7 separate regions of the Homo sapiens genome follow, and regions 1, 2, 3, 5, 6 and 7 are each linked to region 4. Evidence: fine-mapped expression QTL. A gene starts in region 4. Each other region holds a variant in brackets. All regions are shown on one strand. Distances are from middle to middle.

Region 1 (4,062 bases), 170 kb before region 4:
CTGAGCGGGAAGGCAGCTGGGTGAAGGCAAAGGGGGCAGCATCTAGGGAGGCTTATGAGGGGCCAGGGGAAGAGGCATCAGGGCCTCTGAGCGGAGAGGAGGTGCCAGGCTGGCCTGGTCAGGGTGGGGAGGTGGGCGTGAGAACTCCGCTCTGTCCCATCCCCTCATCTGACCGACCTCTGGGCAACCCCACAGGGTGTCAGTTTCAACCCTGGGCTGCTGGAGTGACCAACACAGAAAGCAGGTGTCCAAAGCAATGGGTCCCAGGCCAGTGAGTCAGTGGGTGCTAGGGACACCTGGCCTCAAGGCTTGGAATGAACATCCACCCAGAGGGGGCATGGCACCTTCTACTACCCCACATCACCTCCCACGCCAGCCCCAGAAGGCTGCAGATCTCAACTGCGCAGGATACGGGATAACCCAGCAGACGCTCGGGAGCCACCATGTTCACCTACAGACTCACAGATTGTCCCACCTGGGGGACCCATTGCAAACTCCTGTCACTCCACTCAGGCACTCACCGGCCGGGGGAGCACACCCTCTTGAGGCTGGCAGGCCCTGCCTCCTGGGACTGTCTGATGCAGAAAGAAAATCCCTCCAACAGGGACAAAGACTTCTCCCCCGACACTCCTCTTTGGGGGCTGCTGTCCCGGGTGCCTTCCTGGGATGCGGCCTCTCTGGAGGGTCTGCACCGGCTCCAGCCCAGCACCATCCACCAAGCATCACCTGCCCCACCACGGCCCCGACCCAGCCACAGCTGACTAAAGCCTGTCATCCGCCCCAGCCTGGCAGGGCCTCTCACTCTGCCCAGACCCCATCCCTTCCTATACCAGGTCCCCTGCAGCCCCGGAGGACAAAGACGCCCTCCCAGGCTCTGTCGGTGCCCCCACAGCTCCAGGCAGGAGGTCTGGGCACGGAGGGCTGAGTGGAGAAGTGACCAGCGTGCAGTCCAGGCCCTGCAAGGGGAGGCGGAGGCAGGCAGGAAGTGCTTTCCTCCAGGACCACCTGAGGCCCTGCAGAGGGGACGCAGGAGGGATCCCTGCCCCACACCCTCCCTGGGAGTCACAGACACCCGTCCTGGAGGGTGCTCTGGCAGCCCCCTGGCGTACAGCCCCCCATGCACACAGGCCGAGCATCCCACCCAGACCCGGGCCTGGCCGGCTCTGCCGCACCTGTCCTCTGGAGCAGCTGCAGGCCCGGCTCAGCCCTCCCTACAGGCCCAGCGCTGCAGGCGGCCTGGGCTGCCAGACCTGGGGGCTCCATGCTGACCCTCCCCAAGCTGGGGTGCTGGCTCAGGGCGGGGACTGGGGGGGGACCCCTGCCTCCTCCCAGAGGACTGTTCCCCCAGCAATGTGGCAGTCACTCTGCCCTGCCCTACCGCAGCCCAGCCTCTCGTCTGCCTGGGAGGGGTCCAGGGTCAGCGCTAACCCACGCAGCACCCCTGGAGGCTGGGTTCGGGGGCCCTGCTCTGAGCGTTTCCACAAGCACAGCTCAACCCTCAGGTATGTGGGGCTTTGCTTCTGGGGGGCCCCTTGCTGCTCTGCTGGGGGGCTCAGGGCCTGCGTCCCCTCCGCCTACAGGGCCACCAGGCAGCCCCTCGGGCCTCAGTCTGCCCTGCTGGAAAGAGGGTTCTTCCGTCCAGGGCCCCCACCTGCGCTCCCAGGGGCGCCGGGGGGTCCGGGTCCGCACGGGGCTCTCGGGTTTCCCGGCGGGGTGACAGCGGCGGCGATTTTGGGCAAGCTGGCATTACTGCCCCGGGCCTCGGTAACCCGTGTCGCTACCCCCGCGCCCCCCGTCCCCCGCCCGCCCCGCTCACCTGCCACGGGCGACGGCTTCCGCAGCACCAGCCACCTACTCTTCCACTGCGGGGACAGGGGGGAGCGTGAGCCGCCGCCCGCGCCCGCGCCCCCCCCCCCCGCGCCCCCGACGCGCCCCGACCTTCTTGCCGTCCCGCAGCTTGACCTGGCCCTCCACCAGCGCCGCCTCGGTCATCTTCTGTCATGGTTCCGCGCCGCCGCGCTCGCCCCGGCGCCCCAGCCCAGGGTCACTTTCAAAATAGCTCGCAGGGCCCTGGGCTGGGCCAGGAGGGCGGGCCCGCGGGCAGGGCGGCGACACCGGCGACTCCAGGGCCGGCGCGGGCGGGGCTCCTTCTCCTGCGGGCGGCTCCCCCACCCCCACGGGCCCCTCTGGCCCCACCGTCCCGCGGCGGCCACTGGAGCCGCCCGCCCTCTGGAGCAAGCGCACCATCTGGGCTCAGACGCTCAGACCAGCGCCTGGCGGGGCGGGGGTCGGGCGGGGACTTCTTTTTCAAAAAGCAGAGACAACCACCTAGCAGACATCGGCCC[CG/G]CTCTGGGCACTGCTCCCAACTTTAAAGTTGGTCTTCAAACAATCCGGCTTCCCAGACTGGCATCTGCCCCTACCCCAGGGGTCACTAGACACCCGGACAACAGACTGGCCACAGGCAGCCCAGGCCTAGGATGCTCTCACATCCCCAGGCTTCCCCCACACTGAGGTGACCCCTCCCCAGGCAGGCAGTAGGGGTCGGGGAGCCCCTGGCAGCCTCTGTCTCTTCCTCCATTTCTGTTCCCATTAAAAGCCTGCAGGGACCCCAGTGCAGGTGGGCGGGTCCAGGACCCACAGTGCCGCCTCAGGGCCCCAGGTCTCCACCTCTTCTGCCCCCATCCCAGGCAAGAGCAGGCCCTGGTTAGGCCAGCCGGCTCCGATGGGCAGAGGAGCTGCCTGCTTTGTAAAGGACCTGCCAGCAGCCCTCCCAGCTGGGTGGACTTTGCGCTTCTGGACTCCCCCTCCTTGACCCTGTGGCTCCAGTCCAGCTGTCCCCAAGCTCTGGCCTGGGCATTAGATGTCACATCCAGGTTCTTCTGCAGAGAGGCCATGTGCTTTGGGGGACCTGGCAGGTCCGTGCCTTGGGTGTCAGCCCCATCCGAGAGACGGCCTCCACCACCCTGGGGTTGGGGACACCCAGCAGATACGGGAACAGCAGTGGGGAGGGGCGATGGCACCCTAGAAGATAAGCACCTGGACAAACAGCAAAGCTCCGTCCACATGCCCTACCCTAGACCCCATCCTCACGGGGCTGACGGTTCTCGGGGGAGAAGAAGGAAGGGGTAGACAGTGTCCCGTTAGGGAGGAGACGTCTTCATTTCATCCCATCCAGACCCTAGGCTGGGCTCTGTCTGCCTCGCACTGAGGAGCAAATGGAATCAGGGCAGCGTGAGGCCTCACAGCCAGGACTGAGCCACATCGGCTGACCTCAGAGCAGGGCTCAGAGGCATCGGGAGCCCTGGGCGCCCCTCCCCACTGCCCCTGTGATCCAAGAGACAGGTCTCCGGTGGGCCACAAGGGTTGGCTTTGGTGCTTCGGTGATGTCTTGTCAGGGCCTCATGCAAGGCGGGGGACACCAGGCCCAGGAAGCAGAATTTTGCATCCCCCACCCACCCCCGCAGTCACCTGTGCAGCCACCAGCCGCCTTCCGCAGAACAGTTGCTGGGTCACAGAGCCCCATTCATGCTCCCCACACATCCCAGGCCCCCAAGGGGCTGGCCCAGGACAGCCGGTGCGGAGGCGGGGGCCGTTGGGGCTGTAGCCACAGACACATCCGCTGCCCTGGGCGCCTGGCACTTGCTTATCCCTACAGGGAGAGGCAGGGCCCTGCTGCATTCCTGAGTGCTGGCCCGGGCCCAGGCTCCTGCCATGCCTGGCAGCTGCACCTGCTCCCACACAGCCTGGAACACACAGGATGCCGGAGGGTAGACAACTCCCTTCCCTGCTCCATGCGGCTCCAGGGCTGCTGAAAGGTGGAGGAAGCTTCCTGCAGGAGGAGGAGGTGGCCTGGCTGCCACTCCCAGACTGGCCGAGAGCGCTGTGACCCTGGGCAAGCTCCTGCCCCGCTCCGTGCCTCAGAAGTTATAGCCAGAAGTTTCCCCAGAAGTTATAGCCAGGGTTGCTGGTTGCAAATGGAGAAATAGGCTGGCCACTGAGTAGGAAGGGGTTGATTGGAAGCAAATCAGGTCTCCAAGAACCAAGGGGAAGGCTGGAGAGCTG
Region 2 (4,062 bases), 150 kb before region 4:
GCCTGGCGCCCCGGGGAGGCTGGCTCAGGCAGGGTCGCCAGGAGATCCGGTGACAGTTGGACTCTGGTGAGGGATTCTGGGAGCAAAGGTCACCGGGTCACACCCCTGGGGTTCACAGGGCCAGCCCCCTTCCACACACAGGCCCTACCCGGCAGGAGGCGCTGCAGAGGGCCATGGCCGGACCCCCTGTCCACGCTGCTCAGGCCCTGGCGCCCACTCACCTCTGCCCTCAGTTTCCAAATCTGTAGAATGGGGTTTGATGCCCGATCCCGAGGCTCTGTGAGGGCCAGAGGGGCTGGACACACGGAGGCCTTTGTGGCCCCCTCAGCAGCCCGGAACCCCACAGCCAGCCCCAGCACAGTCAGAGACCCCCACATGAGAGCCCCGGGCTGGCCCCGCCGGGGTCCTAGGGAGCCGGGGGGCCTCTCCCCAGGGCAGGAAGCAGGTGGCCTCTGGGGGGCCTGCACGCTGCCCTCCCTGCACCTCCCTGAAAGGCTTCTGCGGCCATCCTGGGCATGGTCCAGGCTGGGCAGGTGCCACCCCGAGGCCGTCGCCTGGTGACCAGCCCCCTGCAGCGGGCTGCTTCCCCACTGTGACCCCAGTACCGACCCACTGCGTGACCTTGGACCAGCCTGATCCCGTGAGCTCCAGTTTCCCCATTTGTCAGAGATGCAGTAGCCAGGTGTGCGGAGGGGCTAGGAGGATCACGGGGAAAACTGCTGTGACCTCGGTGGGGCCCAAGGCAGCACCCCCCGCCAGCCGCGCACCGCAGGCCTCCAGGCGGCAGTACTCCCAGGAGAGCGCGCTGTCCTTCACCACGTAGCACCAGGGCCTCTCGTCATTGTCCGGATTCCTGCGGTGCATAAGTGGGGGCTGGCAGGGAGTCACACTGCCCCTCGAAGAGGGCATGGGGAGGGGGCATCGGAACCCCCAGCAGGGCGGTTCCCCGCACCTGGAGCAGTGGGAAGAGAGTGGCCCTCCCTCGGGCAGCCTCCCAGGCAGAGGTTCCGGGGCCTGTCTGGACGGAGCTGGCCCCGCCTGGGTCCTAGGGAGCCGGGGGGCCTCTCCCCAGGACAAATCCTGCCTGCCCCGCATGCGGCGGCCTGGAGCGGCGTGGTGCTGACCGGCAGTAGGCATGGGGGCCCAGGCCCAGCAGGGCCGCGGCGCCCACGGAGTCCACGTGCAGCTCCTGGTAGAGCAGATCGGAGTTCCAGGCCAGGCAGCTGAGGCCCGAGGCTGAGGTGCTGGCCACGCCACGGTACCCAGTGCCGTTCCCCAAGAAGCAGCGCTCATCAGGCTCTGCGGGCAGAGGGGCAGTGAGGCCGGCCCACGGTGGGTCCACCCGGCACTGCCCCAGGGCACCCCGGGGGGCTGACCCACTCACCGATGTTGCAGAGCCGTCCAGCGAAGCCTGGTGGGCAGGCACACACGGTGGTCCCGGTGGCCACGATCAGGTGGCAGGTGCCCCCGTTCAGGCAAGGGCTGCTCAGACAAGCTGGGGGCAGGGCCGAGGAGCTGGGCCAGGGGCCGCGCAGTGCCCCACGACAGCGGAGTCGGGGCCGGGGTCCACCCCTTGTCCCTTGTTTCTGGGTGACCTCAGGCCATTCCTCCCACTCGGGTGTGGACAGGGACACCCGTCAGGGGTCAGTGGCACGGCTCACACCCCGTGGCGCACCTGTATGTCGGGTGCCTTCGCACCAGGTCCGGCCCCCGAAGCACTCGCACTGTTCCACGTGGCCCTGGCGCACGCGGG[C/A]CCAGCGGTCGCCCCCCTCCAGGTACTCGTAGCGGGTCTCATCAAAGCATTTCTCTGAGGGGTGCACAGTAAGCCCTCACACCCTGCCACCTGCTGTCCCCGTGCAGGGCCCCTGCCCTGCACTCGGGAGCCACCTGTTCTCCCATCCTCCGGGGACTTGCTCCGGCCCCTGGACCCCTGCGGACCTCCGAGGCCCAGCTCACCTGTGCCGCAGTCCTTGCCGGTGAAGGCCCGGGGGCAGCTGCAGTGATAGGACTGGGGGTCCTGGGTATTGGAGCAGGAGCCTCCATTGAGGCAGGGGCCGGAGGCACAGGGATCCAGGGCAGCTGGGGACATGCGGGAGGGGGTGTGAGGGGCGGACTGGGAGGCTCAGGGTCCCTCTGTGACATTCTCTGCTTGCTAAGGCGTCCATCAGGCCCCAGTGAGGGGCTCTGAGAGCAAAGGGGCCCTCTCTACGCCCCTCGGGGTGCAAGGTCCCTGGGAGGGGCACAGACCTCCCCTTCCTCCCAGCGTCCCCCACTCAACACCTGGGCCACTGGCCCAGCTGTGCACGTGGCTTCCTGGAAGCCTGACACCCACACTGTCAGGCAGCAGACCCCTCCCATGTGTCCCAGGACCCATGTGAGCAGGGCGGCTGGCACCGCACCCCACAGACCCTGCCCACCTGTCCCCTGCCTGGGGCACGCCTGTGTGGCTGCAGGGCCCGGCCTCACCACCAGGCGGCGCCTTGGCCCCAGCGATGGCCGCGCAGCCACCATGAGACGCAGGTCCCACCTGGGAGAGGCTCTGGCCCTAAGTGGCACCCACCGGGGTTAATCCCAGAGCTCCTCTTCTGCTCCCCTCCAGCCAGGACCCCTGCCCGGGTCCGCCCCATCCTCCCCTTGGCCCTTCTGGCCTGGCCCAGTGCCCCCTGCCCGCCCCAGGCTACCCAACCCAGCACCCACCTGGGCCCCCTGGAGGCGGGGTGGCCTCCACACAGTAGCCCCAGGCCCTGTCCCGGTCGTAGTTGTGAGTTGTGGCACACCTGGGGGGCGACACCTGCGTGCATGGGGGTCCCAGGCAGAGGCCCCCCACCCCACCCCACCACCCTGGAGGGTCTCTGGGTTCACTGGGTCCGCCTGCTGCGTGGTGAGCGCCTACTGTGTGCCCGGCTCCCAGAAAAGCAGGCAGCGTGGGGCAGGTGACCCCAGCTCGGGTGCCCCGGCTGCCCGGACCCACCACTTCCTGTGTGCACTGCCCTCCGAAGTGCAGGCATGCAGCATGCGGCCCCCGTAGCGGAAGGGGAACCTGCAGGGCCTCCCGTCCTCGGTGAGTGCTGTGGGGAGGGGGTGGCAGGGTCAGGGCTCCCTCGAGGGGCACCCGAGCCCCTCAGGACCTCCAGCCGCAGCCATGCTCCTCCCACCCAGCCCTAAGGTGAAGCACGACACCTCCTCCCAGGCCCACCTGACCCACCTTGGGCCTGGGGGCTACTGCTCGAGGGAACTGCCCTGGGCGGGGGCGGGAGCCCCCCACTTTGGGGTCCCTCTGCCTCTGGAGCACTTGTTGCTGGGGTCTCAGAGGTCACAGAGGTCACCAGGATAGTGGGGATCGCAGGGGTCGCTGTGGCATTAGGTTCTGGGGACTCCGTACGGTTCTAGGAGGAGCAGAAAGGGTGTCAGTGTGGGACAGACCCTCACACTCAGGTCCTGCCGGGCAGGAGGTCACAGCCCTGAGCCTGTTTCCATACTGGGGCCCCCAGATCTCGGAGCAGGTTCCAGGAGGACACACGACATTCCTGAGGCCTCAGCCAGGCCCTGACACCTTCCCCGCCCTCGGCCCCTAGTTAACACCTGCTCAGGGTCACTGCCCAGGCCCAGGCACTGCTACCCACCAAGCTTAAACCCTGACGTCAGTTTTTGGTGATGGGAGCAGCTAGGAGGCCCTGGGAGGTTCCCCCAACCTCACGCATCCAGACCCAACAGAGGTCCAGAGAGAGGGGGCAGCCCCCAGACCCATAGGGGCCCAGGCCAGGCCGCACAGGGATGACAGCCCCCAGGTGGGGCTCCGTGAGCCCAGGCCCCAGCCTCCAAGGCCAGTCCAGCACCCACCTGCCCTGTGAGGGCCAGCTTTCAACGTAAGCCCCCTGCTCGGACCCCCGCCCCCTCAAATCCCCACGCTCTGTGGCGACCCTCCCTCTGGCCTCCTCCCAAGGACCCCAAGTAGCCACTGGGAACCTCTGGTCGCACTGCGACAAGGTCAGTGCTCACCCCGCCAGGCTGGGGCTGGAACCCCCGTGGCAGCAGCAGCAGCAGCAGGAGGAGGAGGAGGAA
Region 3 (4,062 bases), 96 kb before region 4:
GCAATTAGGCTGCACTGTTTTTCTGATGAGGAAAATGTAAATTTATCAACTAATTCTATGTAAGTACTGATGGTTCTACTCTCAAGCTTTTCCCTTTCTCTTTCAAAATTGTATAGAATACAAATTTTGGCATTTGCCAAAAATATCAACAATTATACTTTATATTTTAAAGAGGAATGCAGTTTAAAGTCCCCCAAGTTAATCCGGCAATTACGGTAACCCTCCCCCATCAGGCAGCCGTTTGTGACAGCTCCCCAGGCCTCAGTGCCTGTTCGCTAACAAGGACCGGCGAGATGAAGACACAAGGCTAGGAGAGAGAAAGTGACTTGCCCCAAGAGATCGGCCTGTCAGCTGTGGAGCTGCAGGTGGAGCCCGAATCTTCCGCCATGGCCAGGTCTGAGCTCCAAAGGCCCGCGTGTTGGGTGAAGGCACTGGAAGAGCCTGGCAGGCGCGCAGAGCAGCCCAGGAGGAGGCGGCGGCAGTGGGTCCACCCCGCAACACCAGTCACACAGGAGTTTCTGCTTCTGTGCTTGTGTGTGCTTTTTGAGAAGGTTTCACGACTAAAAGGAAAATCACTGAAAGCCACTGTCCCCGCCCAAGCCTCGCCCTGACGCTCTGGCTGATGTCTGCTGAACACCCGATCATTCACTCAACAGACAGCTCTCGTGCCAGCCGCTGTGCCGGGTGCCGGGACAACTCTGACCTGCCACGTGGAGGTCACACCAGCTGGGGGGACAAAAGCACCAACACAGATGAATAATTAAAATGATGGAAGCTGCCCCTAGCACGGGCAGGAAATTGACAGTGGCCATCGCTCAGGATGGGGGCAGGTGGTCAGGAAGGGAAGAGGGAAACCGCATGTGCCTGAGGCACCATTGGAGACCAGGGTGGGACGCAGGATGGTTGGGGGAACAGGGGCTCTGAGCTGGTGGAGGGGTCCAGTGCAGGGGCTGGGCAGATCACTGCTGCTGCTGTGGGGGCAACCACCAGCGTTCAGGAGAAGGGAGCGGGAGGATGGCTGCAGAGACAGGGCCAAGACTGAGGTCTGCATGGAGGACGAGTAGGGGGGCAGCTGAGTGGACAGAGTGGGGTCAGGGCAGAGCTGAGGCACAAGGCATGAGGAGGACATGGGGATGGAGGACTGCGACTAGTACGTGTCGGGGGTCCCCAGGGTGAGGCTGCGAGAACGGAGTGTTTGAGAAGCAGCTGGAGCACCGGGGTCATGTATGTGGGGTGTCATGTGGACCTGCCACCGTCCCCCAAAGCCAGAGCCGCACAGTTCCCCGGCTTTCCTGCTGGCACAGACGCCGTACGCAGGAGGAGGTGGGCGCTCTGGGAGCTCCCCGATAGTCTCCACACCCCGACTTCAGAAGGTGAGGTGGTCACAGCGGGAACATCCACCTGTGGAGGCTGCAGTGGGTGAGGGGATTCTGGCAGGCCTCTTGGCACAGAGCTTGACCAACGGAGGAAGCCACAAGAACGGGCTTCTGTGCGGCCGCGGCTCCAGCTCTGTGCAGAGCCAGACCAGGAGAGGTGAGAGGTTCCTTTTTCCAGGAGCAACCGGGCATCTTCCTTTTCTCATTTCTTCACAACGCCCCATCTCCCTCCAGCTCGACCTCACACTTCTGTCTGAATAACTTCCCACAAGGCAGACCATTCCCCTGCTAAGCCTCTCTATAATGCTAGAATGTGCTTCCTTCTCTCCAGCTGGAATCTGCTCCCTGCCCCCACCCACAGCCCTGCCGTGCCCCCCAGAGACCAGCTGTAACCCTTTTTCCCGAGGGCACTCTTTGGCTACAAACGGGTGGCCATTATCAGCCCCTTTCTTCTGAAAAAGTGAAAAAACACACTCCAACTTGACAAAGATT[G/T]CCAAAATAGCATAGTCCAACTTCCTTAAAACCGAGCCACAAAACTAAAACTCTCCAGCGAGAGCCTAAGCTATAAAAGCACGATACGCGTCACAGAATGAAACCGTGGCATGAACACGAACTCTCTCACTGGCACGGCTCGTTGAACACAAAATATTTCTAAGTGAGTGATCTATTAATCACCAAAACTAGACAGGATGACCAGGCAGAGACAGCCCAGCTGAGCAGATTGCTCCCCAAGCCAACTCCTCAGTCCCTCCTTGGAACTCGGGGAGCATTTTTCCCATAAAAACACTGGGGTGCTGGAGTTCCCAGGCCCACCTCAGTGCACTGAGTCTCCCACTGACCACAGCCTATAAAAAGATCTCTGTGTGGAAACACAGCCAGAGTTTCCCTGGGACCACCCCCCCACCCCGACCCCGCCCAGGCTCCTGTCACTGCCGTGGAGGGCAGGGTGTGGGGGAGGGGGCCTCTTTCTGCCTGAGGCACCAGAAGGGGCAGCAGGGGCTGCAGGCGCTGGAGGGTCCAGGGCTGGAGCGGGGGACTCTCCAGGACCATGGGGCTGGGCGTGTGGAGGCCCAGGGCTGGGGGGTGGGTGGGAGCCAGGGTGGAGGGGCCTCTCAGCCAGGGCTTTCCCCTGCAGGCCTGAGTCTGGCCATCTCACCTGCAGACTACTGTGAGCTGCTGGATCTCCCCACTCTGCCTCGGTGCCCTACATCTAACAACGGCAGAATGTGACACCGATCTAGAGCTCATGTGCACATTAAACAAGATAACTGGCTCTTTTTACTCTTATAAGCAAAGAAACTGAAGATGGAAAAATAACAAAAACACAAAAAGGAACTAAATAAACATCCAGCCCGCCCACTGCGGTTCCTGAAATTCAGGGTGTGCTGATGACTGTCTCCTCCCTCCCGTCTCCTCCTCCCTCCCGTCTCCTCCTCCCTCCCGTCTCCTCCTCCCTCCCGTCTCCTCCTCTGTGACTGGGGCTCTCCATGGAGGGACGGGCCTGTCCCAGTGGCCCCAGGGTCTGACACTGGGAAAAGAAGGAGGAGCAGGGGGTGGAAAGCCCTAGCACCAGGGGATCTCTGCGTGGCCAGGATACACTTCCTCAGAGGGACACACAGAGCCAGCGTGGCGAGGAGCCAGGACACACTTCCTCAGAGGGACACACAGAGCCAGCACGGCGAGGAGCTAGAGACTTCCCACCCTTGGGAGGTGCAGGTTTTTAAACAACTGTAAAATGGACACATAACACAACTCTGGGTTCCTGCATCTATTGCTGACAGAAGCAATCTTTTGGAGGCAAATAAAACTTATTATATATGGTGAAACTAAACATATTAGGCAAATCTTTCATGTATAAATTGCCTGCAAGAAATGAATGTCTTCTGCCAGAAAGGAGAAGTGAGAACACGGCAGAAAGAGAAAGCATGAACAGATCATTCAAAACACCGGTCACTTTATCCTGGATTTGGTTCCGGGTCCTGTTTCTTTTCATTAAGGAAGTTTATCCTCCCTCCACCTTAAGACTGATTAAATGACATGATTTTCATTGTACATAAAATAGGAAATAGAATTCCTTTTATTCTACAAAATACATCTCCACCACACGAGTGTCGGGATCCCTCTGGTCTCGGCTTCAGGTGCCAGTGCGTGTGTAACCCAAGATATGCTCCTCCTCCTACAGAGCCGCTGGCCCACAAGGGCTCTGAGCTCTGTCTGCCCACCTGGGGTCCTCCTGGCCTTCCTACAGAGTGGCTGGCCTGCGAGGGCTCTGAGCTCTGTCTGCCTACCTGGGGACAGCAGCCCTTTCCGAGGCCGAGGACTGAGGCCAGCAGCTGCAGGACCACAGAAAGTGAGAGAACGACATTTGGTTTCTCTTTAACGCACAAATACAGTGGCACCTCAAACCCACCGGCCCCTGGGCAGCTTCTGCAGCACAGCCTGTGCCTCAGCCCATCCCTGGCCCACAGCGATGCCAGGTGCACCTATTCCAGCTCTCAGGGACAGAAGTGGGGACAAAAGCGTGAGGTGACGATGAAACCCGAGAGCCTGCGGACTGTCAGGAGTGTTAGAAGAAAAGAGGAATATTTCGGAGGAACTCTCCTTACTTTGGAGAGGTTTTTTTAAATCATTGAACCAAAATGATAAGGATGACATCAGAGAAATCTTCAGTGAAATAAGACATTCC
Region 4 (4,062 bases):
CTCCATCTCCTCTACCCCCGACCTTCCCACAGCAGCAGCCAGGCCGGCTGGGTCACCAGCTGTCACCTCTGGGCCCTCACCACCTCCAGGACCTCACTGAGTCCCAGCTCCCAGCGCCACAGGTCTCCTCGGCCTGGCCACCCCTTCTTCCCCGAGACCCTCATCCTAAACAGGGCAGAAAGGGAGCCAGCCCTTGACCCTGGATTCCCTCCTCTTTGCAGTGCCTGTCGAGTGCCTCCCTCCCACCTCCTGACCCTCCCCAGGACATGCCCTCAGGCCGCGCCACCCCTGCCCTCTCCTGAGCACTCCACAGGTCAGTACTGTACCTCCAGTCCACGTGAGGGGCCTTTCCTCCGCCCTTGTCTTTGTCAACCTCCCTGAGACCTCCGGTCACCACTGCCCTGTCGCTCCTCCCTCTGCTCTGCCAGTCACAGAGGCATCCGCATCATTGCAGTTACCAGGGCTAGAACTGTAAGCCTGTCTGATGGCAGGTTCCAGCCTCAGGAGGTCTCAGAGATAAGGCTGGACTTGCAGTTTTAAGAAAAAGACCCAGACAGGGGTGCACCAACTTGTGCAGGCTCAGCCACCCCACTGCCCTTGCCTGAGCCCCTGCCCTCAGCCAACATGGCCTCCCCCACCTGCAGAGCATCCAGCTGAGGCACCACGCAGGGCCCGGGCACCGGATACCCATCATCTCAAGTCCCCAAAAGCACTGGCCACGATGGACCTTTTTATATCGCTTTTTCAGGGGAAGAAACTTCGCACTGTGACAATTACTTTCTAAAGTGAAATATAAACTGGTTCTCCCTTACTCAGAATTGCTCTGCCCTCCCCACGTCGCCTTCTCTAGGGGAAGGCCAGCAGGACTCCACCCCAGCAGCCCTTGCTGCCCAAAGCCGCCTCTCTGCCCTCCTTGGTAGTCTCCTTGCTGTGAATGGTGGGGCTGCTGCCTTGCCTGGGAAGGCCCCCCAGCGCCCCTTCTGTGCAGGCCTTGCCGGCCATCCTGCACGTCCCTGTGGCCTCAGAAGGGCCCTGCACAGGACGGCATGGACCACGCTGAGGACTTCAGACAAAGACACTCTTAGCCCTTGCAGCAGCTCCAAAGACAGGTCCAATGAGGAAACTCAGGCACAGAGAAGGTGGTCACCTGCCCAGGGACACATTCCCAGCAAGTGACCAAGCAGGTGAGAGGCCAGGTGGTCCTCTCTGTCCACACTCCACGGCTCTGGGCCCCCTCTGTGTTCACCCTCCACTGTCTACACTCCATGGCTCTGGGCCCCTTCTCTGTCTGCACGGCTATGAGACTCTGTCTACACTCCACAGCTATGGGTCCCCTCTCTGTCTACACTAGATGGCTCTGGGCCCTCTCTCTGTCTACACTCCACGGCTCTGGGCCCCCTCTCGGTCTACACTCCACGGCTCTGGGCCCCCTCTCTGTCCACACTCCACAGCTCTGGGCCCCCTCTCTGTCTACACTCCACTGTTTATACTCCATGGCTCTGGGCGCCCTTTCTGTCTACACTCCACAGCTCTGGGTCCCCTCTCTGTCCCCATTCCACAGCTTTGGGCCCCTCTCTGTCTACACCGCACGGCTCTGGGACCCCTCTGTCTACACTGCACAATCGCGGCACCGCGGCTGAGGCGACCCCAGGTCGCTGCAGTGCGTCTGGAGTTCGGGTCTCGGAAGGCAGCTTCTGCCCTAACAAAGCGGCCGCTCGTGGAGTCCGACGAGGGAACCCTCCCAGCGCTCCCGGGCGCATCTCGCCCGCGGGACCCCCTGCCCGGCGCCGCCCCCGCGGGTCCCGCCAAGGGCCCGGGCGGGCCTCACAGCGCGGGGCCCCAGGAGGCCGCGCACCCGCCCGGCCGGAGGCCCCACAGGCCCGCGCCCCGCGCCGCCCGCCCCCGCCCCCGCCCCGCCCCGCCCCGCGCCGGGCCCGGGACCAGGAGCCTGAGTCAGGCCGGCGAACAAAAGGCAGGGCGGGCGGGCGGCGACCCCGAGGGGACGGGCGCCGCGCAGGGCTGGCCGGGATCGGCCGGGAGGCGGAGGGCGCGGGCGCGCGCCCCGGAGACGAAAGAAAGAGCGGAGGCGGCGCGCCCTGCCCCCGCCCCGGCCCCGGCCCCGCACACCTACCGGGCCGCGCCGCTCGCTCCCGCTCCGGGCGCTTCGGCCCGCGCCACCGCCCGCGCGCGCAACGGTCGCCTCGGCAGCCACCGCCCCCCGGGGTCGAGGCGAGGGCGGGGCCGAGGCCGGAGGAGGGGCGGGGACGGAGAGGGGCGGGGCGAACCTGGTGAGGCGGGGCCAAGGGGGTGGGGTTGGGGCGGGGCGATGCGGGGGCGGGGCACGGGGCGGGGCGAGGGCCTTCGCGTCGGGACAGCGTGGTAACGGGACTGCCAGGGAAGCAGGGATGAGAAGAAGCGAGGGACGGGGCCTCCACGGCCGGGGGCGGGACTTCCGTTGGGGGCGCGGCGGCGCTGGTGCGCACGGTGTGTACCCGCACTGGCCCGGCCCTGGTGCTGGGAGCGACTGCGTTCCCGCAAGCTGGTTTTCTCTGCCTCCGCTGGCCCGGGACACCCTGCGAAGGGCAGGTCGGTGTGGCCGGGAGGAGCCGCCCCTGCCTGGGCTGTCTCTGTCCTTCGCCGTCGGTGTCCGAGGAAGTCCCGCTCCCGTTGGGTCTCTGTGCCCGGGAAACCTGGCTGTGGGGAGTCAGGCCCCGGCGCCCTGGCTTTTCGGCTGGGCAGATGCCCGGAGCTGGCGGCAGCTTCGGGGGCGGCGTGAGTTCCCGCGGCGAAGCCACGGGGACAGCCAGGAAAGGCCGTTCCCTCCGGGCCCCGGGACGCCCGCGAAGGCGGCGCGGTGACTGCGGCGTCCAGCGGGTCTGCCCCTCCCGGAGCGCGGGCAGCAGCGAGGGCGGGACCGGAGGCACCGCTGGCACGAGAGGAGGAGCTGCCCGGCCCCGGCCTGCGCCTCTGGCCCTGTCCCAGCCGCCGCCTTCACCCTTTAGGCCGGAGTTCCTTCCTCGCCCTCTTCGTGTCTTCCTTCCCCGGCGCTGGGTCTCCCTGCCCCTTCCTTCCTGCCTTCCCCTCATTCTCTCCCGCCGCGTTTTTCCCTCGAGACGCATCCGTCGCTGCTGTTCACGCTCCAGCCCTGCCGCCCGCCCAGGGACTCGGCCCCTCTCGGGTTTGCTTCTTTCCTGTCACCTGCCTTGATGGGCTCAAAACGCTTCCCCTCCGTCCCCGCCACCGCCCCATGGTTTCTTGGCAGCTCTCCATCATCTAGTCTTGTGTGATTAGTTTGGATCCCAGGAGGAAACCAATGGCATTCTCAGTGGGACAATTAATTAAGAGTCCAGCAGGGTTCCCGCTGGCAGAGGCGCGGTCCGGGAGCCGGGAAGCCACAGGGCGGTGCTGAATTGGGACAGGTAACAGCAGGGAGGGAACTGTTTTCACCTGCAGGGCTGAAGGAGCGCGGCCAGAGCGGTTACAGGAAGCCAGACAAAGAGAGAGAGATACTTAACAGGAGCTGCGACCTATGGCCAAGGGACACAGCCAGCCCTTGATGACCCAGCAGAGAGAGCCAGGGAAGAGGCCAGGCGCGGTGACTCGTGCCAGTAATCCCAGCACTTTGAGAGGCTGAGGCGGACAGATCGCCGGAGCTCAGGAGTTCGAGACCACCCTGGGCAAGATGGCAAAACCCCATCTCTACTAAAATACAAAAAATTAGCCAAGCGTGGTGGCACGCGCCTATAGTCGAAGCTAGTTGGGAGGCAGAGTCAGGAGAATCACTTGAGCCCCGGAGGCGGAGGTTGCTGTGAGCCGAGATTGTGCCACTGCACTCCAGCCTAGGTGACAGAGTGAAACTCCATCTCAAAAAAAAAAAAAAAAGAGCCAGGAAAGAAACTGCCCCCACCCTGGCCCCCCCAAAACTGTGGACCTTCTTGGCTCCTGCCTATGCGCAGATGGTGGAATCTTCCAGAGCAGCGCCAAGCCAGAAGGAAGCAGGCCGCAGAGCTCAGCCTCCTGAGGCTCCAGGGCAGGGACAAGTGGCCCTGAGTGAGAGATGGG
Region 5 (4,062 bases), 21 kb before region 4:
AGGGCTCCCTCTCATGACGCAGCTGAGCACACAGGGTGCCTGTCCCGAAAGCGTGAATCCGTAGCCGGCCCTCCCCCGGGCAACCTCCACACTCCGCACCCTTGGGGGCGACGGCCCAGGCAATGGGCGTTTGGAGGCCTCCCCAGCTCTAAACATTCTGATGAGCTTCCAAGACCAAGAGCACGTCTCATTGTTCCCTTGGAGCCATATTTCAAGGAATGCTTGATGCTACCATGTTTGCTTCTTCAAACAGTGCCCTAAGAAAGAAAAACGAACAGCTCATTATTAAAGAGCCCATCTTTCTCCACCACTCACTGGTATTAGCTAAACACAAAAAGATAATTCATAATAAAAACCACCACAGAAAGAGCCTCTAAGTGTCTATAGATAATAAATCTTCAAGTCAGGCTAAGAAACTTCCTTTCGGAGTAGAAAATGTCTCCCACAACTGCTACCTTGTTACCACACAAGTTCCTGCCAGGCCCACCTGCCACGGGTGTGAGGATGCAGGACTGCTTCCCAGCACTGCTTCCACACCCTGTTTGGATGGAAAGAGCCCCTTGCTACTCAAAGTGTGGTCCGTGGACTGGCAGCCCGTCTGAAAGGCAGACTCTCGGGCTCCACACAGAAGAAACACACCCAAACCCACGTTTCACAGGATGGCAGAGTCCAAGCGTGAGAAGCAAGGCCTGCTACAGGCTTCAGGTTCAAAGGCACCTGCAGAACACTGAGTCTAACCCCTTAGTTGATCATAAATCCCCTGACATAGAGTTTTCCCTCAGGAGAGGGGTCACCTAATATTCCATGACCCTCCCACATTAATTTATTTTGAATATACTGTGTGGGGGAAAACGTATTAGCCTGAAACAACCTCGATCAATACTGCAGAGGCCACTCAACAGGCTAGATAAAAACCACCACCTAAAAAAGCAGAAATGTCATATTAACTCAATTCTTCCAGGGGGTATAAAAGTATTGGTTGTCATTGAGAACAAACTTGTCAGTGGTCCGCGGATCACCCCCAGGCCAGTGATTCCCTAGGATTCCCAGGACTTGGCACAAAGGTGCTCTCACAGCTGAGATTCATTACAGCGAAAGGATTCCACACAAAATCAGCAAGGGCAGAGGTCCATGGGGCGATGTCCCAAAGAAACCAGGCTTGAGCTTCCAGAATCCTCTCCCAGCGGGGTCACGCAGGACGCACTTAACTCCCTACACAGTGAGCCGTGACAACGCATGTGCAGTGTCGTCACCAGGGAAGCCCACTAGAGACTCGGTGCCAGGGTTTTTACTGGGGGCTGGGCACATGGGCACCCTCTGCCTGCTTCGTGCCCAGACTCTGGACTCCCAGAAGAAAGGAAGGTTCTCAGCACAAACCTTGTTCCCCACACAAGCAGCTAAGCACAGGGAGCCCCTCTTCATTGAGGGTGGTGGGCACCGTCCTGACACCAGCGGGGGGCCAGCCTTGCACACAGGCCTCTCAGGATGGTCTCGGGCCTGCTGTGTAGTCTCTTCTGCAAGACTCTTTAAAGATCACTTTAAAAAGCAATACAGTAAGTGATTGTGTTGTGAAGACACAAAATAGAATAGAGGGTATGTTTTTTTAAAGAAATAATTGTTTTAGGCCAGGTGCGGTGGCTCACGCCTATAATCCCAGCGCTTTGGGAGGCCGAGGCAGGTGGACCACGAGGTCA[G/A]GAGATCAAGACCATCCTGGCTAACACGGTGAAACCTTGTCTCTACCAAAAATACAAAAAAAATTAGCTGGGCATGGTGGCGGACGCCCGTAGTCCCAGCTACTCGGGAGGCTGAGGCAGGAGAATGGCATGAACTCGGGAGGTGGAGCTTGCAGTGAGCCGAGATCGTGCCACTGCACTCCAGCCTGGGTGACAAAGCGAGACTCTGTCTCAAAAAATAAAATAAAATAAAATAAATAATTGTTTTAAAGTTAATAACTTCTAATAGAAAAGATTTTTGTGTCTTGGGATAAAGTTTCCAGCAATAGGATCATAAACAGATTTGAAGTAATTTACACACATAAAAGCTACAGAACTAGATAGAGTGGAAAGGCTATTACTAGGTGACTCCAAAAGTGGCTTCAGTGATGACAAAACACGGACACAGAACATGCGTACTTAGTAAAATTATGTTTTGATGGAAAAGAGTAAAAAATGAATATAAATTACATTACTCAATATCTAAGTAGTACTGTATTAATAATTTAAATATTAGGACTGGGCATTTAACTATTTAAAATCATTAAAAAATGAATTTAAAAAATAAAATAATTAAAATTATTTTATAATTTTTTAATAATTAAAAATTATTAAAAATCATCATTAAAAAATAAATAAATAAATGTAAAAGTTGGCCAAGAAACACGTCTGGGGATCGATCTTCTTAAGAGGTGTGACAGGCTGGCTGATGGCCCCTGATACACCCACATCCTCACTCCCAAGCTTTTGGATGGCTCCTCCCATCCACGTGACCACGTGAAGGCTCTAGAGATGGGGAGAGTGTGGGGTGCGCCTGTGTGAGCCTGGGGTCAGAGCCAGAGGGGACGGCCACATGAGGAAGGATGCGGAGACTGCAGGGATTCAAGGATGGGTCTCGAGCCCAGGCAGACGGGCAGGCGGTCACCTCCAGAAGCCGGAAAGGTGAAGGAAGCAGACTTAAAGTCACCAGAGGAACCAGCTCTGCCACACCTGCCATCAGCCAGGTCACACTGACTGCAGACACGAGGCCCCCGAAAACGCAGGAGAATGAATGTGTGTTGTCTTAAGCCCCCCAGTTTGCAGTAATTTCTTTCAGCAACCCCAGGAAACAAATACAAGGGGGAATCACTTTGTCACGGGTGAGGGGAGAGGGAAAGCAGGACATGCGTGAAACGGTCTCACTAAAGCACGCTCAGAAAAGCATCTGTCACACAACAAAGGTGCTGCTGTTCCCGGCAAGTGCCAGCTATCACTGTGAACAGCCCCAGGACAGCAGGTCATGAAGCCTTGATGGCTTCCTCGGGGAACAGAACACCTCTCGGCTTTCTCTTCCAAACAGGAATAGATGCTGCCTCAATGAAAGACATGACTTCCCAGTTTATTCGCACCATCCGCCTCACACTGTGTGACATAATGATGGACAATGTCTTCTATGCAGTCCACCCAATTTTTCTACTAGACTCTTACTGTCATGGGCCTCTGCTTATTAAAAAGAAATGGTTTGTAACTCATGTAAGTAATATCTTATTATCTATAATCACGTTTCTTTGTTTTTATTTTTTAGAGACAGGGTCTCACTCCATTGCCCAGACTGGAGTGCAGTGGCACAGTCATTGCTCGGTGCAGCCTCAAACTCACTCCTGGGCTCAAGCCATACCAAGCACACCCCCATACTCGGCTAACTATTTTTTTTTTTTTGGAGAAAACTGTATTGAGATATTTTAAGTCACGTATCTAATATAAAACCAGTTTGCATTGTTTCAGCTTGTCTTCCTTGGAACCTGTGGTTGCCCTTCACCTCCTTCTGGCAATTTAAATTGCTCTGATTTCGGCAGAATATTCCCCGGACATCAGGACCATCTCCACATTCATCCCAGTCTTTGAGACAGCTCCCGGAGATCAGCTTCCTGGTCAAGCACAAGAATCTCAGCAGCACCGTGATCTTCCTCTCTCTCCTGGCCAGGTAAGACCCCGACTTTCAGGTGGTGGTTCCTCTTGCTGAGGCTGCTCATCACTGGGCTCAAGCACAGGCCCAGTTAGCTCAGGAGGCTGCACATACCGTCTTGGTCTAAGCCTACATGCTGATCTTCCTTGCCAACTCATATTTCAAACGGCTGCTTCTCAGTAGTGGGTAAAGAGTCCAGAACGCAGGAACGCAACCCTCACACCCTCACAGGTCCACAGTGTTCACCACGTGGGCAAAGGGGCCAAGGAGAAGACACCCAGTGAACCTTGGCTAATGTTTTAATTTTTCTGTAGACGAGGTCTCACTATGTTGCCCAGACTAGTCTCAAACTTCTGACCTCAAGCAATCCTCCCACCTTGGCCTCCCAAAATAATCACATAAGTT
Region 6 (4,062 bases), 45 kb before region 4:
AACAAATCCATCACAAAGATGTGCAAATCACAGCCATGCACACAGGCCATCACAGCCTCACTCAAAACACACTGTGAGGACATCTGCCCAGCAACCGCCCGCCCACCTCCAGCCTGGTATCATCCTTGGTGCTGATCCTTGTGGCAAGGATAATTATCTCAAAACAATCATGTGATCCTCATTTTTCCTTTAAAAGCCTTTGTCTTCTTTGGCCTCCCCAGCTATGCACTGTAGACCATGGCAAGTATCTGCCTACTCCAATGCCCTGCTCCCAGATAAACATCATTTCTTTCAGAGAGCCTCTCTCTGTTATTTAGATGGACAGTGATAAGAGAGTTTAATTTTTTTTTTCTTTTGAGACAGGATCTCACTCTGTCGCCCAGGCCGGAGGGAGAGGTATGATCATGGCTCACAGCAGCCGCGACCTCCCAGGCTCAAGTGATCCTCCCACCTCAGCCTCCTGAGTAGCTGGGACCACAGGCATGTGCCAACAGGCCCGGCTAATGTTTGTATTTTTTGTAGAGACTGGGTCTTGCTATGTTGCCCAGGCTGAGCTGAAACTCCTGGGCTCAAGCAATCACTTACCTCAGCATCCCAAAGTGCTGAGATTACAGGTGTGAGCCACCACACCTGGCAGCCCTGACCACGCCCCAGGTGAGCGGCCCTTCCACAGTCAGCCTTGCAACTTGTTCCCAGCACAGGCAAAAGAAAGGATGTCTGACGCCTGCCCACACGTGGATGCACTGTGCACTTTGGAGATGTAAAGGAGAAAGGAAAAGTCTAACAAGCAGACAGAAAACAATTCTTGCAAAGCACTAAATCAACTCATGGAACGAGGGCCAGTAACAGATGTGACAACTTCCACAGCAGGGAGAGACCAGCGTTTACTCGTGTTTCTCAAATTGACAAAGTTTTGTAAATTAATAAATTCAGATCATCACCGCCGATTTAGCACCCCTGCTGGTGTGACATAATCTTGACTCTTCCCCAAAGAGTACTAAACAGGGAAAACAACAATAAAAATGGCCTAAAAGACCACTTGGTTCAAACTCCAGCTTTTAAGTTGAGAAGACTCCTCACGACTGTCTGAGAAGACAGGTGGCCCCCAGGGCACCATCTCCACCTCCCAGCCTTCGGCCACCACACCCAGCACTCAAGGGCACTGAGTGGAGCAGACACCGCCCGCCCGCCAACCACAGAGGCCGGTCACCCTGGCCCCCAGGCATCCAGGATGCAGTGAGCCAGCCTGAGCCAGCCGGCTTCAGGGAGAACCAAGGGCCTCAGGCCAATCAACCTGCCTGGCTACAGGGTCCCAAGGGACGGCCGGTCAACCGGCATTACTACCACACACAGGCCCAGAAAAGCATCGGGTTCCCTCCAAAGTAAAACCGCTAGAAATGAGGGGAGGGGAAGGGTAGAACCTTAACCCCTGCTCAGGTACCAAATTTCTTGGCCACTCTCAGTGCCAACAATGAATTGCTGGGCACAGTGGCTCACGCCTGTAATCCCAACTCTTTGGGAGGCCGAGGCGGGTGGACCACCTGAGGTTGGGAGTTTGAGACCAGCCTGACCAACATGGAGAAACCCTGTCTCTACTAAAAATACAAAATTAGCCAGGCATGGTGGCACATGCCTGTAATCCCAGCTACTCAGAAGGCTGAGGCAGGAGAATCGCTTGAACCTGGGAGGCAGAGGTTGCCGTGAGCTGAGTTCACACCACTGCACTCCAGCCTGAGCAACAAGAGCAAAACTCTGTCTAAAACAAAACAGTGAATCATCCCATGCGACCATCAGTTCGGAGC[A/G]AAGAATCATTTTGGCGTAAGAACCATTCCAACGCCTCAATCCACAGATGAGAACTGGGAAGTCAGGGAAGCAAGTCCGTGCAAGGTCACACAGCTCATGGCTGACCTGAGACAACACCCAGCTCCTGCTGTACTACTGCACTGCCGTTTTTTATTAAACTTTCAAAATATTTATTCAATCTGATTTTAAAATCCAGATAACACAAAATTTACCAAGTTAGCTGGCTCAGTAGCATTAGGTGTGTTCGTACTGTTATGCAAGCATCACCACCGTCCTCCAGAATTTTTCATCTTCCCAGAACGAAGCTCTGCCCCCATTTAACACGCACTCTCCATTCCCCTCCCCCAGGCCCCCTCTCCCGCTTTCTGTCTTTATGAATTTGACTGCTCTAGGAATCCCACATAAGTGGAATTAGATAGTGTGTGTCCTTCTGTGACTGGCTGATTTTGCTGAGCATGGTGTCCTCAAGGGTCATCCATGTTGTAGCCTTCCTCTTCAAGGCTGAATAATATTCCGCGGTATGGATGGACCACACTGTGTTTATCCGTCACCTGATGATGGACATCTGGGTGGCTTCTGCCTTTCAGCTATTGCAAATAATACTGCTATGAACATGTGTATAAAGAGCATCTCCTCAAGACCTTGATTTCAATTCTTTGGGTATATACGTAGAAGTAGGACTGTGGGCCATGTGGTCATTGTACTGTTGGTTTTTTGAGGAGCCACCACACTGTTTCCCATGGTGGGTGCGGCACTTGGCATTCCCAGCAGTGCGCCAGGACTCCAACTCCTCCGCATCCTGCCCAACACGGGTCATTTTTCTCTCTTGTGATGGTGGTGGCAGTTGTTTTATAGTAGCCATCCCAAGGAGTGTAAGGTGCTGACTCACTGTGTGTTTAGTTGGCGCTGGCCTAATAATTGATGATGTTGGGCATCTTTCCACGTGCCCATTGACTACTTGTGTATCTTCTTTGGAGAAACGTCTATTCAAGTCCTTTGCTCATTTTTTAATTTTTCTTTTTCTTCATTTTTTTTTCTACTTCACAGTTTCACACTGGATCTTTGCCCATTTTTTTTTATTTTAATTTCTCTTTATTTTCTTTTCTACTTCACAGAATTCACACTGGACTTTTGCCCATTTTTTAACTGGGTTGTTTGTTCCTGTTGCTGAGTTATAGGAGTTCTCTATAGACTCTGCATATTAACTGCATATCAGATACATGGCTTGCAAATGTTTTCTCCCATTCTGTGGGTTGCCTTCATTCTGTGGGTTGCGTTTTTTAATGTGTAGAGTTTTTACATTTGATGTAATGCAATTTATGTATTTTTTTCTTTCGTTACCCACACTGCTAGAACTAAAAATTCCTAACCAATTCGGTCTAAATAAACACTAGTCCCTAAGCCCCAGTGGGGCAAGGACCATGTCCTGGTCACGACTACACCCCCACCCCTCCCACAGTGCTTGGTGCATACCAAGTACTCAATGAATACTTACTGAACAAATAGACTGTACACAAGAGAGTATGTAGCTTAAAAGAGAGACCAGATCATCCGAAGGTATTTCCAAAAAGAGGCAATATAGAGACTTACGAGGAGTCAGATTTCTAGCTCACATCTTCGCATCTCCTGCTATATTCTTCAGGGTTCACTCAGGAGACAGAAACCACCCGTAGTTCTAACAGAGAGTACTATGTAGAGAAGGGGTAGCTTGGTATTGAGGGATGGAAAGGCAGAGGGACTCTGAGATGCCATGGAGTAGCAACCTCGGGAAGCCGCTGCCACCCCAGGGCTGGGAAAATGCAGGGAAGCAGAAGGAATTACTCCAACTTGGCAGCTCACAGGAAAACAGCCGGTGGAGCTGGGGCCCAGACCACCGAGGGACAGGACATGGGGCTCCAGCCCTTGGGTTTTGTTTGTTTGTTTGTTTGCCTGCTTGTTTGTTGAGACAGCGTTTCACTCTGTCACCCAGGCTGGAGTCCAGTGGTGCGATCTGGGCTCACTGCAACCTCCACCTCCCAGATTCAAGCAATTCTCCTGCCTCAGTCTCCCAAGTAGCGGGGACTACAGGCACGCACCACCATGCCCGGATAATTTTTTTGTATTTTTAGTAGAGACGGGGTTTCACTATGTTGGCCAGGCTGGTCTCGAACTCCTGACCTCAAATGATCGGCCTGCCTTGGCCTCCCAAAGTGCTGGGATTACAGGTATGAGCCACCACGCCCGGCCCAGTTTTTTTCGAATTTTTAGAGTTGGGAGTCT
Region 7 (4,062 bases), 110 kb before region 4:
CGAGGCTCTGTAAGTGTCTTGCTTCGCATCAAGCCTGAGTCCACAACTTTAGCACCCTCTGATGATTTCCTGACGCACTGTTCAGCTGTATTCTGCTCTAAGAGCCCCCCTCCTGTTACTACAAAGCCATTTATCTGTGTTAGTGTGGACTTGCTGGGTTTTTATTTTAGTCCATGGCTCATACCCCATGAACACCTTTCTTTTTTGGAAGCTCAGTCCCTCCTTCAGGCTGGCACCTGTATCCTGCTCATGTGTCCTCATCATGCCTTAAGCACTGCCTTATTTTCTGGTGTGAAAAAAAATAAAAGCGAAGCTCCAGCTTCATCCTGTGTTTTTCCCACTCCAGCCCAGGAATTAGTCTTTGCTCCACAGAGCCTGACACCCTCTACAGAAAAGAGGTATAGACACCAAAATCTGGACATGCAGGTGCTCACTGCTACTGGGGTTTCCCTGCCTCCAGCCCCACCCTGGTGGACAGAGCTGGGAAATGTGGATGCACACGCACACACTGCTATGTCTATCTCTCCATCCACACATCCCTCTATTGAAAGCCATCGGTTCATACTGACGCCTCCAATGCCAACCCAACACCCTGAGCACATCCTCACCTCCTCTTCCATCTCTGTAACTCCCTGCTGGCAGTGGGGAACTGGCTCCCATGAGCTCTGATGTGTTTGTCCCTGTGCTCAAGCCTGGCACAAACAGAAAGCAGCTTAAGAACGACTGACCCACACCCCTGCACAGACAGACCTACTTACTCGCCCAGCTTAAAATCCTACCACCTACTGTTTAAAGCCTGCACTTGATCACCAAAGTGATTTTGTTTCCCTTTCGAAACAGCCAGGCCTCGTGAATACCTACCATGCAGTCACTACAGCGGCAAAATTCACTTTCACAGAAAATCCCCATGTGGAGACTTGTGCCTCAGGACAATCCTTCTGTCTCTGGCTGCCATGATGTGATTGATCACATGGCCTTGAGCATGTCTGTGCCTTGGTTTTCTCATGGAAGAGAACTAATCTTTGCAAGGCTTGGGGCAAGTGTAGACGAAGGAGCTTACACCATATATCTAAATGCTGGAAAATTGTAACAAAGGCTAACACATTGTTAAATAAGCTATATGCCATCTCGCTACCCTCCAACAACCTGGAAGGCCAGGTTTAATTTAGAATTCTGGAACCTAAGTTCTGCACAGAAGTGTGGTAGTGCAGGGAGGGCTGCCACAGCCCATAGCCCCCTCCTTACTCCCTTAGCTTCACCCCAGCCTCATACTGGGGTGTGAAATTTTGTATCCACATTTTGTCACATCACCCCACGTCAATAGCCCCCTTTGGGTCTCAGAGTATCTATTTCATTCCCCAGTTATCAACTGGAAGATGCTTTTCAAACTTAAAGCAATGAGGCCTTTCTTCCCAGAGAAATCTTACGGGAATCCCTGTGAGGGGCTGGCTTGCGGAGGAAGGAGGACATGTCGGGCAAGAACAGGTAGGGTAGGCTCAGGCCCCCTCTGCTTTAAGCAGCACAGGCTGCGGAGGCCGGCCCAGCTCTGCATCTCAACAAAAGCCTGCCACAACAGCAGAGCCTGCTGAGGGTTAGAAAACAGGGATCTGGAATAGCACCTCCTCAGAAAAGTGTTTACATGCTATCGATCTCAGTCAATCAGCCCATTTTACAGATGAAGCTGCTGAGGTCCAAAACATTCCATGACCTGCCTGGGCTGACATCAGTGACTATGCTGGGCCCAGACTCCACATTCTCCATGGTGAGGTCCC[G/A]GTATCCCCAGCAGCACTTTCTGGGCTGACCGTGAGTCTGGCCCCCACAGCCAGACCTCACAGCCCTGCAGAGGAGCTGCCACGCCTGGCAGGTCTCACGGACCCCTCGAGATATAGTGTACTTCCCGTTACCTCAGAGGGCCAGAAGAAATGTGGGCCCAAACAGGAGAAATCTGAATTCTGGGTCTTTCCTGGAGTCAGTACTAGAAACGTGTGATTTATAACTATTCTGGCAGAGCCCAGCAAAACAAACTCTCTACGTCTGAAGTGACACCAAGTCCTTCTGGAGAGTGAAATGCCAACAGGCGGGGGTGAAATGCTGCCAGAGCCCATGAGGCCATGCGAGTGAGCAGAGCGGCTCCTGCGAAGGTCAGTGTGGGAAGTGTTAGGCGATGTGCAAAGACGAGTGAATTATGTCACTTGTCACTCTGAATTTTTAGGATTCTAGGCTTAGAGCTACCAACTATGACCATAAGTAGTTGGTGAGGTCACATCTGACCACAGGGAGCCCTCAGGATGCTCCAAGAAAAGACACAGAACATTTTTCAAAGATCAACCCTAACTGACTTCATTTATTATGCTTACTTGAGCTGAAAAAACTTCACATTACTCATTTAGTGGTTAATTCCTTTGTGAAACTGACTTACTTCATTTTGATGAATAAAATATTTATACTTTGTAAAGACATTCTTCTTCTATTCTTGTGCCAGTGGCCACACAGGAAGTTCAGACCTTCTGGTTGTGGCTTGGCCCCACCAGAGGACACCACCCAACGCAGAGGACGCCACCCAACGCAGAGGACGCCACCCAATGCAGAAGCCCAGGGGCCCCAAATGCTGACCTCATGAGGAAGACTCAAAAGTGGTCCTAAACCCTTCCCTCAAGCCAAGGTGGGGCCACCCACACAGAAAACTGAAGACACAGTCCTGGGGACCTGTGCTTCCACTGAAAGAGTCCAGGGATAGAGAGGACGAAAGGGCACCCTACCCAGCAGGACTGAGGCCAGAGGACCAGGCTTCAGGGAAGGAGGAAGGGCCTGAGTGTGTAAAAGCATAAAGGATTTGTGACATTTAGAGGCCACCCCATAAGCCAAAAAGAGGTAACACAAGACACGGAAAAAAGGCCTACTCTACACATCAGGGGCAGATGGTGGATGCTCTCAGCCATGGTGGCCATATAAATGGTATTTGCTGGGACTGTGATGACTTCACATAATTTTAATAATAAATATAATATGTTAGATGTAAAACTAAGCATAATGCAATGTTTGTACCTTTTATATAACTTCTGATATCAAACAATCAAACTTAAAAAGTCATTTGTCCTAAACCGGGCTTCCAAAAATCTGGTCACCATGCTGGTCCCATGTCCACTGGCCCAGGGAGGTAGGCAGCGCTCACGGGCTCCAGGGCCTGCTGCCTGTGGTCTGGCCCCTTCCCAGGGGTGGAGCTGGGGCTCAGGGGGCCACCTCTGGAGACTGCTTCTCCTTGCTGACTGTGGAGAGGCTCTGCAAAGCCCTGGACTTTTACGCAGCAAGAGACGAGGCTAAGGCAGGGCTCTCCTCCATGGGGAACCCAGCCATTCTGCCCATTCTCTTCCTAAAACCGGGTGGGCAAGTTTAAGGTGAGCATGCGGTAAATGAGGCCACCGCCTCCTTCTCACGATTCACAGGTGCTGACGGGATGTCTGCTCTATGGCAAGCTGTATTCTAGGAGGTGGATCCTCAGCCTGGTGTTACCTAGTCCACAGTGTGCCGGTTCACGGCGTGGTTCCAGAGTCACACTGTTTGGATCTGACTCAGAGCTCCGCTCCTTCCTCACTGGGCAAGACACTCCCCCCGCTGTAAAACCGCAGTAAAAACCGTGCTCGGACTTCACAGGGACAGCGTGAGAACTCCCCTCCTCACCAAGTAACTTACGAGTTACTTAACTTTCCTATAAAGCTGGGATAATAACTATGCGTCTATGCTGACATGAAAGGAACACTGTGACAAACAGTGCGAGGCACATCCTAGGCATCCAATAACATCGTCTGACTAAGTGGATTGCTTGTCCCAAGTAACAGCTAATGAGAGACTACAGGCTGAAAGGGATATAAACTGACATTATAATGCATAATTCATAAAATATTTTCTTCCTTGAAAAAATGTAAATATAAATCTAAAATCCCTATTGGGCTTATCACCTAAAATTCTGGTCCTATACCCCCTCCCCAAAGATAATCCATCTTATTAATTTGGTGTTGGTCTGTCGAATTTTTAAAGCATTTTTACCAACATACATATGCTCCC

The links.
Region 1: its variant is fine-mapped to the expression of RGS12 in cerebellar hemisphere (GTEx, PIP 0.94).
Region 2: its variant is fine-mapped to the expression of RGS12 in whole blood (INTERVAL, PIP 0.98).
Region 3: its variant is fine-mapped to the expression of RGS12 in blood mononuclear cells (TOPMed, PIP above 0.99).
Region 5: its variant is fine-mapped to the expression of RGS12 in whole blood (TOPMed, PIP above 0.99). The same link has a PIP of 0.9 or more in testis and transverse colon.
Region 6: its variant is fine-mapped to the expression of RGS12 in whole blood (INTERVAL, PIP 0.98).
Region 7: its variant is fine-mapped to the expression of RGS12 in whole blood (TOPMed, PIP above 0.99).

The regions. Positions count from the first base shown.
Region 1 is chr4:3,461,306-3,465,367 of GRCh38, reverse strand. DOK7 (docking protein 7) reads right to left here and starts at 2,062. Exons shown (of 7, transcript NM_173660.5): 1 at 1,939-2,062; 2 at 1,817-1,862. The coding sequence starts at 1,992. RefSeq lists an enhancer at 2,437-3,284. The variant CG/G (reference allele first, on the strand shown) is at 2,346.
Region 2 is chr4:3,442,056-3,446,117 of GRCh38, reverse strand. It overlaps HGFAC (HGF activator), which reads right to left. Exons shown (of 14, transcript NM_001528.4): 1 at 4,000-4,062; 2 at 3,206-3,386; 3 at 2,972-3,068; 4 at 2,698-2,777; 5 at 1,957-2,079; 6 at 1,676-1,807; 7 at 1,385-1,495; 8 at 1,125-1,299; 9 at 768-853; 10 at 1-76. Among named protein-coding and RNA genes, the nearest start is that of HGFAC, 2.1 kb to the right of the region's middle. RefSeq lists a silencer at 2,571-2,620. The variant C/A (reference allele first, on the strand shown) is at 1,754.
Region 3 is chr4:3,386,980-3,391,041 of GRCh38, reverse strand. The region is part of intron 4 of RGS12 (regulator of G protein signaling 12); the gene reads right to left. Among named protein-coding and RNA genes, the nearest start is that of HGFAC, 53 kb to the left of the region's middle. RefSeq lists enhancers at 1,973-2,122, 2,813-3,082. The variant G/T (reference allele first, on the strand shown) is at 1,869.
Region 4 is chr4:3,291,169-3,295,230 of GRCh38, reverse strand. RGS12 (regulator of G protein signaling 12) reads right to left here and starts at 2,210. Exons shown (of 18, transcript NM_001394154.1): 1 at 2,132-2,210. RefSeq lists silencers at 1-51, 2,075-2,124, 2,135-2,614, 2,795-2,904 and an enhancer at 836-1,421.
Region 5 is chr4:3,312,265-3,316,326 of GRCh38, reverse strand. It overlaps RGS12 (regulator of G protein signaling 12), which reads right to left. Exons shown (of 18, transcript NM_001394154.1): 2 at 1-257. The coding sequence starts at 156. It also overlaps the pseudogene LOC100286945. Among named protein-coding and RNA genes, the nearest start is that of RGS12, 21 kb to the right of the region's middle. The variant G/A (reference allele first, on the strand shown) is at 1,695.
Region 6 is chr4:3,335,775-3,339,836 of GRCh38, reverse strand. The region is part of intron 2 of RGS12 (regulator of G protein signaling 12); the gene reads right to left. Among named protein-coding and RNA genes, the nearest start is that of RGS12, 45 kb to the right of the region's middle. The variant A/G (reference allele first, on the strand shown) is at 1,803.
Region 7 is chr4:3,401,149-3,405,210 of GRCh38, reverse strand. The region is part of intron 4 of RGS12 (regulator of G protein signaling 12); the gene reads right to left. Among named protein-coding and RNA genes, the nearest start is that of HGFAC, 39 kb to the left of the region's middle. The variant G/A (reference allele first, on the strand shown) is at 1,773.